4 linked regions of the Homo sapiens genome follow. The protein of the gene in region 3 purifies or fractionates together with the protein of the main gene of each other region. This does not show direct contact. Each region holds a gene or a part of one and is shown on either strand. Other genes may lie near its edges.

What was found. The genes of interacting proteins can lie anywhere in the genome.
Region 1: the proteins of UNC13B (region 3) and CEP72 purify together in Homo sapiens (co-immunoprecipitation; one large-scale study listed by IntAct). This does not show direct contact.
Region 2: the proteins of UNC13B (region 3) and PPP2R3A purify together in Homo sapiens (co-immunoprecipitation; one large-scale study listed by IntAct). This does not show direct contact.
Region 4: the proteins of UNC13B (region 3) and RAB27A purify together in Homo sapiens (affinity purification with western blotting, with the first as the bait; one study listed by BioGRID). This does not show direct contact.

The regions. Positions count from the first base shown.
Region 1 is NC_000005.10:618,840-622,339, forward strand, and holds part of CEP72 (centrosomal protein of 72 kDa), read left to right. Parts: intron 1-150; coding exon 151-278; intron 279-1,229; coding exon 1,230-1,422; intron 1,423-3,500. UniProt on the Homo sapiens protein: Involved in the recruitment of key centrosomal proteins to the centrosome.
Region 2 is NC_000003.12:136,143,728-136,146,060, forward strand, and holds part of PPP2R3A (serine/threonine-protein phosphatase 2A regulatory subunit B'' subunit alpha), read left to right. Parts: intron 1-1,315; coding exon 1,316-1,439; 3' UTR 1,440-2,333. UniProt on the Homo sapiens protein: The B regulatory subunit might modulate substrate selectivity and catalytic activity, and might also direct the localization of the catalytic enzyme to a particular subcellular compartment.
Region 3 is NC_000009.12:35,298,009-35,301,508, forward strand, and holds part of UNC13B (protein unc-13 homolog B), read left to right. Parts: intron 1-2,157; coding exon 2,158-3,500. UniProt on the Homo sapiens protein: Plays a role in vesicle maturation during exocytosis as a target of the diacylglycerol second messenger pathway.
Region 4 is NC_000015.10:55,234,314-55,237,813, reverse strand, and holds part of RAB27A (ras-related protein Rab-27A), read left to right. Parts: intron 1-371; exon of another isoform or gene 372-1,349; intron 1,350-2,857; 5' UTR 2,858-2,879; coding exon 2,880-3,032; intron 3,033-3,500. UniProt on the Homo sapiens protein: Small GTPase which cycles between active GTP-bound and inactive GDP-bound states. In its active state, binds to a variety of effector proteins to regulate homeostasis of late endocytic pathway, including endosomal positioning, maturation and secretion.

The DNA of each region.
Region 1 (3,500 bases), on a different chromosome or scaffold from region 3:
CCGAGGAGAAGATTCAGGAGCCTGAGTAAAGTTGAATTAAACCAAGAATCTGTGTCAGTTTCTACTCCATATCCAACACCAAGAACTTGACCGTTATTATAATTGTTTTCAAAATAAAAGATTAAAATCTTACAATTTTTCTATTCTTAGCTGAGCTTCAGTCATTGTCTATTCCTGGAACTTACCAAGAGAAGATCACCCACCTGGGACATTCTCTGATGAGTTTAACAGGTCTGAAATCTTTGGATCTCTCGCGCAACTCCTTGGTTAGTCTGGAGGTAAGTTTTAGGTCTCTTTCTTAAAATTTATTGCTATCAACATCAGTGGAAAGTCCATTCACAGCAGAAACGGAGTCTGTTTTGTAACCCTCTGCTTACATCTGTATACGGTACACTTTGTGTTGCGTATTTTTGTGTTTACCGTGGGCTACATTTCATACACATCACGTTACGTTGTGTTGTCGCCCTCTGATGACGATGATTATATCTTTAAAGGAAATGAAATGAGACCCCAGAGACTTACTGAGTGGCAGTGCAGTGGGCCTGGGGCTGCCTCCTGGGCTCCTGGCAGGGTCACCCTGGAGAGAGATGCCTAGGTGGTGGTGAGGGGAGCTGTGCACAACTACCATGGCCTGATTGGCCCTGACAGAACCGTGGGATGCGCCTGCCCTGAGCCCGATGCCTGAGCATTATGGAGGCTGCGTCTGCATGGCCTGATTGGCCCGGACAGAACCGTGGGATGCGCCTGCCCTGAGCCTGGTGCCTGAGCATTATGGAGGCCACGTCTGACACCAGCTCGGGAGTCTGCTCCAAGTCAGATGCGGACCTAGCCCAGGCTACACCCAGTGCTGCCTCATCTTTCCCCGTTCCCAGGCCTCAGCTTTCTCATCTGTGAAGGGGGGGCTGATGGTTCTCACCCTGTAGGGCGGCGTGTGGATTAAATGAAATTGTGCGTGCACATCACTCAGCTTGCTGCACGCTGAGGCCTCGGTAGATATTAGCTGTGCTTAGTTGCGTCACATGTGGGTTCCATAAACGACCGTCTCACCGCGTGGGGCCCAGAGAACTTCACAGATGAGAACGTTTCATTTTTCTACTTTTCCTGGTAATGACATGGAGTTATTGCAAATAAGTTTATACAGTTGGTTGGTCAGTGTGTGTTGCTGGCTTATTTCACTGTGTATTTCTTGTTTAAAGTGTGAATGAATTCACTGTGTTTTCTGTTGACAGGGCATTCAGTACCTGACTGCATTGGAGAGTCTCAATCTCTACTACAACTGCATCTCCTCGTTGGCAGAAGTGTTTCGGCTCCACGCCTTAACCGAGCTCGTGGATGTGGACTTCCGGCTGAACCCCGTGGTGAAGGTTGAGCCTGACTACCGCCTTTTTGTTGTGCACCTGCTCCCCAAGCTCCAGCAGCTGGGTAGGCATCAGGCAGGGCCACGCTCATGCTTTTGTCCCCGTGGGGTATGGGAGTCGGGGAGTCGTAGTGGGTGTCTGTGTGCTCAACGTCACATGCTTGATTCCTTCTGGAACGGGGAGTTGGTTTTCTACGCTGGTGGCTTGAGTTCCTGCAGACACACAGCTCGAGAGGCCCTGTGTCTGCACAGGACAGGGCTGGAAGTTGAGCACCCTGGGAGGGCGCAGGGCTGGGGCCGTGGGAGCACAGCCCCGGACCAGGCTGCTACGTCCTGTTCTGGCTCTCCGCGTCATGGCTGTTGGACTTGGGCACGTTCCTGAACATCTCCTGTCCTGTTTCCTCGCATAGCCCCCAGGTATCATCTCAGGTGCAGCTAAACAGCAGGATGCTGCCTGGTTTTGCCCCACTTGGAAGCACACAGGACAAGCAGCTCATTGTCCCCCACACCCCACCACTGGGACAGGGTTGGGAGGGGATGTGCAGTGACCTTTGGATCATGCTCCTGAAAGAAAAGGCTTTCCATGACAGTCTTGTAGGCAGAACTTCCAGGGCCCCCACAGCGATGCCCAGTAGGGAGGGTCCCTGGGTTGGGGCAGCCGCAGGTCACCTTCCCATCTGCCTCCTGCCTCCCCGGAGGCATTGTTGCTGTTGCTGTTGCTGTGAGCACCTGGTGGTGTCTCTGCTGACCCTACCCCGAGTCACAGATCCAGGAGAGAAAGCTGGGGCCTCAGCCCAGGGGCACACTGACCAGAGTCCATGGGGAAGAAGAGGGTGCAGGGTCTCTTACCTCAGTCCTCCTGTGTGAAGTGGGGGGATAAGAATGCTGTGTTGACATGTCGTGGTGGGGAGACCTGAGTTAATATCTGTAAGCTCCCAGACTGCCCGGCATGGCCAGGGGCCTATAAACGTTCCCTGGTTGCTTCTGTTGTTAGGGTCAGACCTACCATGCACCGCTGTTCGAAAGCTGCCCCTCCTTCTGAACCTAGGACCTTATCAAAAACAAAAGAATCACAGAATCCCAACTATCTTGTTAGAACAAAAGACCAACAGAATCACAGAGGACAGAGCACTTTCCCCCACTGCGAGTGCCCTGAACAGGCTGTTTTCCACGGCTGTGGGGAGCATTCAGGTTCTCTTAGAGAACTGAGATTTGTATGTCAATTTCAAGTAAACAGCAGCTAAAGCACGTTGGTGGGTGATGTGCCTGGCCCCTGGGTACTGCCCGTTGTGGGCGTCGGGACTGAGGGCCAGCTGGGGTTTTGCCACCCACCAGATGAACACCCGGCAGCCCTCACCCTGTCAGCCCCATGAAGTTCGTGTGACGTCAGCAAAGCTGCACACCAGAGGTGGGAAAACAGGTGGAGGAGCACCTAAGCGCCTCAGCGAGTAGACCGGGAAGGCTGTCTGGGGCCATCGTGGAGCCATGCGGGGCCGTGTCACCTCATCACAGGGAGGACTGGCCTGCGGTATCTTGATGGTGATGTGATCACACATGTGTTTGTATATGGAATTCTCACATTTTATTTTATTTTTGAGACATAGTCTCGCTTCATCGCCCAGGCTGGAGTGCAGTGGCGTGATCTTAGCTCACTGCAACCTCCGCCTCCCGGGTTCAAGCAATACTCCTGCCGCAGCCTCCCAAGTAGCTGAGATTACAGGTGCGTGCCACTGTGCCCTGCTAATTTGTGTCTTTTTAGTAGAGATAGGGTTTTGCCATGTTGGCCAGGCTGGTTTCGAACTCCTGGCCTCAAGTCATCTGCCCACTCTGGCCTCCCAAAGTGCTGGGAATACAGGCGTGGGCCACTGAGCCTGGCCAAATTCTAACATTTTAAACTGCACTGCTTTGCTACTTGGAGAAGTTTCTGGAGATGCTGGAAAGAGCTGTCAGCATGCAGCACACACACCCTCTGTTTGGTGACAGTGTAGGTTAGTGGTATGGATTGAAATCTGTTTAAAGGAGTCCTCTTGGAAGAATGCCCCAGTCTGCCACAGTTTGACCATTTTTCAGTAACTAACGATCAAAACAATTTTTCTCTGACCTTCTAAAAGTGACTTGAGGAGCTGACAGTATCCCTGGGTCC
Region 2 (2,333 bases), on a different chromosome or scaffold from region 3:
TTGCAATGAGCCAAGATGGCCCCACTGTACTCCAGCCTGGGCGACACAGCGAGACTCCATCTCAAAAGAAAAAACACACACAATGTTTTAGGAACTTGAATAGGTGCCACTTACTGTATATACCTACCTCAGCATATTTTCCCTCACTAATTGGCCCCAATTGGTACCTTTTTGATGAAGGGACTGTATGTCCACAAATTCCTGCTTAAATATTGTGGGAGATCCCTGCAAGGGCTAAGCCAGTGATGTCAAATACTATAATAGACATTGCTGATGTACATTTTTCTGATGTACATATCTACATATGAGGCTCAGAGATATAGCCTCAGAATATTTATCAATATTTCAGGCAGCCACATCATTTCCAAGAGAAAATATTTCATCTCTGCCTAAAGCCAACCTTAGGGGTAGCCTGGAGGATACAGAATTCAGGGGATACCAGCAACACCTAAAAGGTTTAGCAGAAGGACATCTTCCCAGGATGAGTATCCAGGTCCAGGTATGCTATAGAGACCTAAAAAGTAGAATGATGGGAAATCCATAAATGCACTTTAGTCAGTTCAACCTACATACTTGAACATCTTTTTGTGTTGCTTGGAAGCCACGGAGGGAAGCTATAAAGCAATCTGAGAGTTGAGAAAGTTTGCCACTCTGGCCGACCAGTGGCTCAAGCCTGTAATCCCAGCACTTTGAGAGGCCAAAGTGGGCAGATCACCTGAGGTCAGGAGTTCCAGACCAGCCTGGCCAACATGGTGAAACCCCATCTCTACTAAAAATACAAAACTTAGCCAGGTGTGGTGGCGCATGCATGTAGTCCCAGCTACTGAGGAGGCTGAGGCAGGAGAATCGCCTGAACCTGGGAGGCAGAGGTTGCAGTGAGCCAAGATCGTGCCACTTCACTCCAGACTGGGTGACAGAGCAAGGCTCCGTCTCAAAAAAAAAAAAGGTTTGCCACTCTGAGTGGAAACCACTTTTAATAAGGTCAAGTAATGCTCATACTTCATGGACCTCAAATTTTTCTTTACCTAGCACCATCTGTAATTCTCTCACTCCCACCAACCACCCTAGGGAAAGCTTGATACGGAACATTTTCAACAAATTCTGACATGGACTTAAGCTTTAAGGAACAGGGAGAAGAATGTGTTTTCTGCTCTAGAGTGTTGCCTCCTTCACGGCAGTTGAGTTGCTCACGGCCTCCATTTAGCAATTCAAGGTACCTTTGTGGGCTGGTCTTGAGGCTCGGATTTGCCATATTGATTTCTACCCAAACTTTAATCAATCAATCAGTTAATTCACTTTTGCTTTGTTATTTCAGCTTTGAAGATTATGAAACAGATGAACCTGCCTCTCCCTCTGAATTTGGAAACAAAAGCAATAAAATATTAAGTGCAAGCCTTCCAGAGAAATGTGGAAAGCTTCAATCAGTGGATGAAGAATAGCTGCCGGTGTCTACAATGAAACGAAGATGTGTATTTTAAATGTTTCTTTCTTGTGAAGAGATGTTCTCGTTTGCATACTGCTTTTTAAAGACTTTGATTTCTCCAAGTGTGTATCATCTGCACTAGGAACTTTGTTTTTAAGCAATAGGTCTGGATACACATTTAACTTAGGAGGCTCCTCCAATTTGCCTCAAACCTCTTACGGAGCTTCTCCTCAGAAGTGGTACCATCGCCTTCCAAAGTCAGCACTCTACACTCTTGAATGTACCAAGGATCTCTTGGCGACAGTACCAAGCACGGTTCTCTACACAGGTGACTGAAGTTGCCTCTGTGTTGGCTGGCATCCCTGAGTCCCCTCCGGGCTCCTATGGAGCCTAGAAGAAACCTTCACTTGCAGAAAACTTGAGTCAGAAAATTCTGGAACTTGAAAAAGTAGTAAGGGCCTCCAGAATTGACTTAGCCCTAGTAATAAAAGCACTGCCAAAACATCTCAGAGACTTCTTTTATGTATACTGGAGTTCAAAGATCTTTAACTTACCTGGCTTAATGTAATTTCACAGTTACCTGCCAAACTACTAGTCACTTTACATCCTCAGGTATTGTAACCACTGGGCCTTCCAACTTTGCTGGCAAGCTCTGGTAACCTCCCTGACTGTGGATCTTATATAAAATCTCAAGATAAAAAAACACTTCTTAAATGAAGTATAGAATTTGACTCATACTTGGAAAAAGCCCTTTTAACTTTTATCTTTTATTCATTGAACTATTGAATGATGTATTTAATATCCAAATTAGTTGATAACTGTTTTCACTTCCTATCAGAAGGCCTGCTTGAAGACATAAAGGAATAATGATACATTAAAATTCTTACTAGATAGATATATTCCTTCCTCC
Region 3 (3,500 bases):
TCTTTTACTCAATGATATTAGCATCCATTGATCCGTGCCTGAATCAATTATTTTATTGATTGGAGGTTAGTTTTCAAGAAATCATTCCAATTTAGCTTATCCTTTTAGTTTCTAAAATTCACTAGACTGGCTAGGTGCAGTGACTGATGCCTATAATCCCAGCACTTTGGGAGGCCAAGGCGGGAGGATCACTGGAGTCCAAGAGCTTGAGACCAGCCTGAGAAATATAGTGAAACCTCATCTCTACAAAAAATAAACAAAATTAGCTGGATGTGGTGGCGCATGCCTATGGTCCTAGCTACTTGGGAGGCTGAGTTGGGAGAGATTGCTTGAGTCTGGGAGGTCGAAGCTATAGTATGCCAAGATTGCACCACTGCACTCCAGCCTGGATGACAGAGCAAGACTCTGTCTCAGTCAATCAATACAAAATTCACCAGACCATAGGATGATGTCCTTTTCTTGCCCACCTCACCAAACTGCTACATGGTGAGTTTAGACACAGGGTCTTGCGTTGTTGCTCAGGCCGGTCTTGAATTCCTGGGTTCAAGTGATCCTCCTGCCTTGGCCTCCGAAAGTGCTTGGATTACAGGTGAGAGCCACTGCACCTGGCCTTCTGGAAGATTTTTAGTGACTAAGTGTCTGCTTTGATCTTGCTTCTGTTTCCTAAATGAATGCTTTTGGATGTTATATCTATAAAGAACACACTGAACTCATAAGCTCCTAGCCTTTAGGTTCTTTCTCCATCCCTACCTTGGTACACAGAAGAAGGCAGTCTTTAATCTAAGTGAAAGAAAGTTCAGGCTATCTTCAGTATTCATTGTTTTAAGGTGGGCATGTAGCTTCTGCTGCTATAATCAGTATAGGGAAAGATTTTCTTTTCACTGTGATCCTCAATGCATATAGCCTTTAGATTTCACAAACAACAAATTATAATGCCTTAGGCTGGGCATGGTGGCTCATGCCTGTAATTCCAGTAGTTTGGGAGGCTGAGGGCGGGTGGATCACCTGAGGTCAGGAGTTCAAGACCAGCCTGGCCAACATGGTGAAAACCCACCTCTACTAAAAATACAAAAATTAGCTGGGCCTAGTCGTGGGTGCCTGTAGACCCAGCTACTCGGGAGGCTGAGGCAGGAGAATTGCTTGAACCCAGGAGGCGGACATTGCAATGAGCTGAGAATGTGCCATTGCACTCCAGCCTGGGCAACAAGAGCAAAACTCCGTCTCAAAAAAAAATTATAAGGCCTTAAATAATTTGTTATTTTTTTGTAGTATAACAAAGTTTGACTTCTGCTGATAGTAAAAAATGGTTTTATATGTATTTTTTTCTTATTAAAAGAAATATGTTTGACTATATTCTTGGCTACACATCCTCAAATATAACTTTCAGAAAGTTAACAGCTTGGCTTCTTTTTAGACTAAAAATTTATCAGCAAATTTCGTTTTCTTGAAATCCCTTGATATATTTTGCTGGTATACTTTAATATTGCAAATACATTCTAGATATTGGTACAACATGTTTCATTTTTTTCATTTGTTTCTTAGAAAAATAAAAGAATTCTAAAAAGCTCACCAATGAAAAATGATTGCAAGTTGAAGCATTTAAAAATTGATATTATAGCTGTTCTTTTTCTCATATGGAATAAACTATTTGACTACATTGATATAATATTTAAGAACATGTGGATTTCCTTTTCATATTTTTTTAGTCTGAATGCTTTTTATCACATTGGCAATTTTATTGTTCTAGTCTTCTCATTGAACATGTATTAAATCTTATAACTTCTTTCTTCCTTTTCCCTGTCTCTTCCTTTTTCTTTGCTTTATTGTTCCTCCAATTTTATCCCTTCACATCAGACAAGGCTCACAGGCTAAAGATGAAAAAATTAGGATTATTTCAGCTTTCTCTGATGTTGACTATGAAGAGCAAGAAGATATACATAAGGAGATAGAGGGGAAAATATCACAAGAGTTTCTAGAAAATAATAACATAAACTTGAAGGAAGCAGAGATAAAAGAAATTAGAACCCTTTCAAAAGCTGATAAATACTACAGCCAACAAAAACAACCAAAGTATAAGAACAGGAAAAAGATACCACCTCAGAGCCAACAAACAGAATTCTCTACTGAGTTTAAGGTTGAAACTTCTGTTTTCTCCAGGTATGCTCAGAAATATGATACACTAGATAGAAGAAGAAAAAAGAAATCCTTATACAATCATTTTGAAGACAGTGAAAGAAGGCAATATGGTGAGAGATCTGAAACTAAGACTAACTACAAAAGTACATATTCTAATACTGAAAATTGTACCCTTTGCCATACTGAAAAGAAACAAAATATGGGGTACCCAGTTTTGTACCCCTACAAAAATGGATTTGTGGTTAAGAGTGGCATGCAGCGCATTAAGTTGGAAAGTCATGATTATGATCTGTCCAGTTGTTTAAGGCACTGTGAAAAGTCATCTGGCTCAAACCAGCATGTCACTAATTTTACCTCATTAGATATTCTTGAAGATTCTACTAGTAGTACTTCTGATGAACTTCTGGGTTCCCCCATTTCTGATAAGCAGGAAAATTTACAGTCACCAACATGGCATTCATCCAATGTCCACCATATTGGAGATTTTCCTGAGGAATATTATGTAGCAAATTCAGCATTGCCATTACAAAGGATGAATTGTGATGCAAAAACACTTGGAGATCTGTCTGAGTGCTCTATAGAAGAGATAACCCCTTCCTCTATTGAGGAGCCCAAGGAGGACCGTATTGATACAATGGATGAGCTTCAGTGTTTGGTAGAAACGGTGTCAGAATATTTAGCAGAGAAGGAAGAGGAGATTAATAGATTTGGTTCACTTTCAAAAACTAAAAAATCACATAAACAAAATAGTACTCTTGATGCAGAACAGAGAACGCCTGGGGATCAAATACCACCTTTAACTATTGTCAAGAATGACAAGGACACGGCCATCTCTTTCCCTGAGTTGACTGGAGTACAATGTGCTGTTGGTTCTTTGTTTAGTTCACTCACAGAAAAAGTGGGTTCAGGCACAAAGCATCTAACAAACTCTGTGGAAAAGTTGGTTTCCTTAGTTCCAGAAAAAACAGAAACTCTTAATCAAATAGAGGCAATTAATTTGGGATCTAAACCCAGAGCCATGGCAGTATTGGGGAAGGATCTTTCCATGCAATCTCCATTATCCTCTCAAAAAGATGATAATGTGAATATAGACAGACATAGAAAAACCTCTGAAAATGAGCACATGGGTAATAAAACTGGGAGTTTATACTTTCAGAATACAACAGAAAGTATTGCAAAGGACTTGGCTCCACAGAGTCAGAGTTCAGTTATAAAGTCGGTTTTCAGCAGGTTAAATCCATTGAAGATCTTTTCAGAAAAGGAGGAAACAAAAAAAGATGATGACCAGAGTAAGCCACCAAGAAAAGAAAGCTTTGTTGAGTGTGGTTTGGAGTTAAATAAAAGGGAAGGCACTCTTGACAATT
Region 4 (3,500 bases), on a different chromosome or scaffold from region 3:
TTCAAATTAAAAATAAATAGGAAATAAGGTAGTCACAGTGTCTTCTTGCATCATTCTCACTGCAGGATCGGTATTGTTATCTGCTGCTCCATTCAGTTTGAGGGGAAGCCCTCAAATGAGTCAACATTATCTGGACTTGCTTTTCAATTCTTAGCTCTTATTTCCAATAACTTAGAGCCAGGTGTGATGCTGTGATATGACGTGCTATAATGTTGATGTCCAAGTTGTCGTTTTTTGGAGAGGAATTCTGTTATATGTCATTAATACTGGTGACCTATACTTGCAAATATCCAAGCTATAAAGACAGGTAAGGCATCATCTGTGAAGTGTCACTCTTTATAGTGTGCAAATAGAATTTTGAATGTTTGTAGAGGCTCTGCCCTTATCCACGGGCTAGCCATACCTGAAACGTGAGGTTGCAGATCTGCACTGAAGCACTCTGAGGAAACACACTGCAGTGGCTTTTGGGGCTCAGCATTCAGGAGTTTTCAGCATAAGGTGAGTCCCCAAGTTGAGGATGGGGTGAGGGAGGTAACACTGAAAACCAGTAAATATTCTTGTCTGAGTTTTTATTAATTTTATGGATATATAGAAATAGTCCTACAGGAAGCACTGAATATGGCAGCCAAGTTTCTGGATATGGTGCTGGGTAAAAAGGGGATAACGCCGGGAGTCAGTAGCATCCAATGTAGGACATCTGGCATGTGTATAGATGGATAAATATGTATGTTTGAATAGTCATGTAGAGTCGTCAGTGTTAATGAGATAGCTAGTTGTTTTTATGATTTTCAGGAGAGTTTATTGGCATTGGCGGGGGAAACGGAGAGAGGTTGGTTAATGTGTACAAGCATATGGTTAGATGGAAAGAATAAGTTCTAATGTTCAACAGTAGACTAGGGTGACTATAGTTAACAAAAATGTATTGTGTATTTTAAAATAGCTAGAAGAGAGGACTTGAAATGTTCTCAATGCATAGAAATGATAAATACTCGAGGAAATAAATACCCTAAATACCTTCATGTGATCATTACATTCTATGCATGTAACAAAATATTACATGTACCCCATAAAAATATACAAATATTATGTATCAATAAAATTTTAATGAAAAAGTAAACCTCCCCTGGAGAGAGATCCCATTTCTAGTTGGACTGATATTTTGGGTTTGAATCTATTTAGAAGGTAAATACAAATCATGAAAAGTGCTGATTGCAAAGAACCAAAAATAGCCGTGGTTAGGTATTGCTGATATAAATGAATTTTTCTTCTTTAAGGTGGACTTTTGTTTTAGTCGGTACTGAAGAGCTGAATTTTTAGCAGTTCTTGATAGAGTACCCAGGTAAACATAGGTAAGCGAGCCCTTGGTTGTGGCACTGTGGTCTCTGAGCAGTGACTGTTCAAATCTGGAACTCAGTTCCCAAGTGAGCAGTGATACTCTAGAGAAGTCTGGCTTAATATGTAGTACATATTAATAGTAATATGTAAGGAAGCAGGGACTAAATTTACTTGTGAAATAACAGTGTCTTTGAAGGAACCGTAATAACATGTGAAAATGAATAGAATAAATGAAATTGCCTAGATGTCCATGTAAAAAGAGAGAAAAGGCAAGGTTCTAGCACTAGGAGACTTTCTTTCTTTCTTTTTTTTTTATTTCCATAGGTTTTTGGGGAACAGGTGGTGTTTAGTTACATGGATAAGTTCTTTAGTGGTGATTTCTGAGATTTTGGTGCACCCATCACCCAAGCAGTGTACACTGTATTCAATCTGTAGTCTTTTATCCCTCACCCGCCTCCCACCCTTTCCACCCGAGTCCCCAAAGTCCATTGTATCATTCTTATGCCTTTGCTTCCTCATAGCTTCACTCCTACATATGAGTGAGAACATATGATGTTTGGTTTTCCATTCCTGACTTACTTCACTTAGAATAATTGTCTTCAATTCCATCCAGATTGCTGTGAATGCCATTATTTCGTTCCTTTTTGTGGCTGAGTAGTATTCCGTGGTGTGTGTATATATATACAGATAAAAAAATTGTGGTGTACCACAATTTCTTTATCTACTCATTGACTGGTGAGCATTTGGACTGGTTCCTTATGTTTGCAATTGCAAATTTTAGCACTAGGAGACTTTGAAAAAGGAGGGGAAATTGGAACCACTTGCACTCTAATGATTACTGTTATTCCTTATAACATTCTCTTTCCTCTGTTTTTCTTGTATTAGTTTTTGTTCTATATGGTCTACAGATAAGACTTAGTGACTGTTACCTTCTTGTTGATTATCATTCCCACTTGAAATTTTTGTCCTAATGGTACTATAATATGTATGTTTTTATTTTTATTTTTATTTTTATTTATTTTTTTATTTTGAGACAGAGTTTTGCTCTTGTTGCCCAGGCTGGAGTGCAATGGCGCAATCTTGGCTCACTGCAACCTCCACCTCCCAGGTTCAAGTGATTCTCCTGCCTCAGCCTCCTGAGTAGCTGGGATTATAGGCATGCACCACCATGCCTGGCTAATTTTTGTATTTTCAGTAGAGATGGGGTTTCTCCATGTTGGTCAGGCTGGTCTCGAATTCCCAACCTTAGGTGATCTGCCCACCTTGGCCTCCCAAAGTGCTGGGATTACCTGTGTGTTAAATTAAAACTACACTGTTAATTACTATTTCAATAGCTTCTCATCTAGCTAGTTATTAGGTCTTCAAGGATGGTGAACAATATGTATGTAACTCTCTTTTCATACAACCCGTAGACATACAGGTTAACATTAGGTGTTAAACTGAATATTGTTGTCACTTTTTAAATGGATAATTAATGTTTTCTAATGGATTTTAATTAAAAAATTTTGTGTGTATTTTACAGGTGAACTACTGAGTTCTTCATTATGTCTGATGGAGATTATGATTACCTCATCAAGTTTTTAGCTTTGGGAGACTCTGGTGTAGGGAAGACCAGTGTACTTTACCAATATACAGATGGTAAATTTAACTCCAAATTTATCACAACAGTGGGCATTGATTTCAGGGAAAAAAGAGTGGTAAGTTCTATATCCTTCTATGTAAAAATGTAATCGTTAAGTCAACATTTGCTGGTCTGTTTAGTTTACTTTGTAGGAATTAGGAGGACAAAGGTTGGGATCTGAAATTAAAGGTACATATGAAAGTGAGTTATGTTCAATCCAGGCAACATGATTGAAAAGGCTGTGCTGACAGCACTTCATATAAAACCAGGCAGACAAAGTGGAAGTGGACAGTTCTTTAAAATGTCACCTTGGTACTCTTTTGGCTTGTATCTTCCCTCTGAACTCCGAAAGTTATTTGTCTACCTTTGTCTTGAAGCCTGCCAACCACCTTGCCCCTCATACTCTTGTTTTATGGGCTGTGTCTTCCACCTTTGGTATCTTATTATTTTTAATGGCATTTCTCCTAATAAAGTCTCAGCAGTTCCACATGGAACACTAACTGGCAGAACTTATCACTGCTGCCAGGAGGGTGAGGTTGGAGTA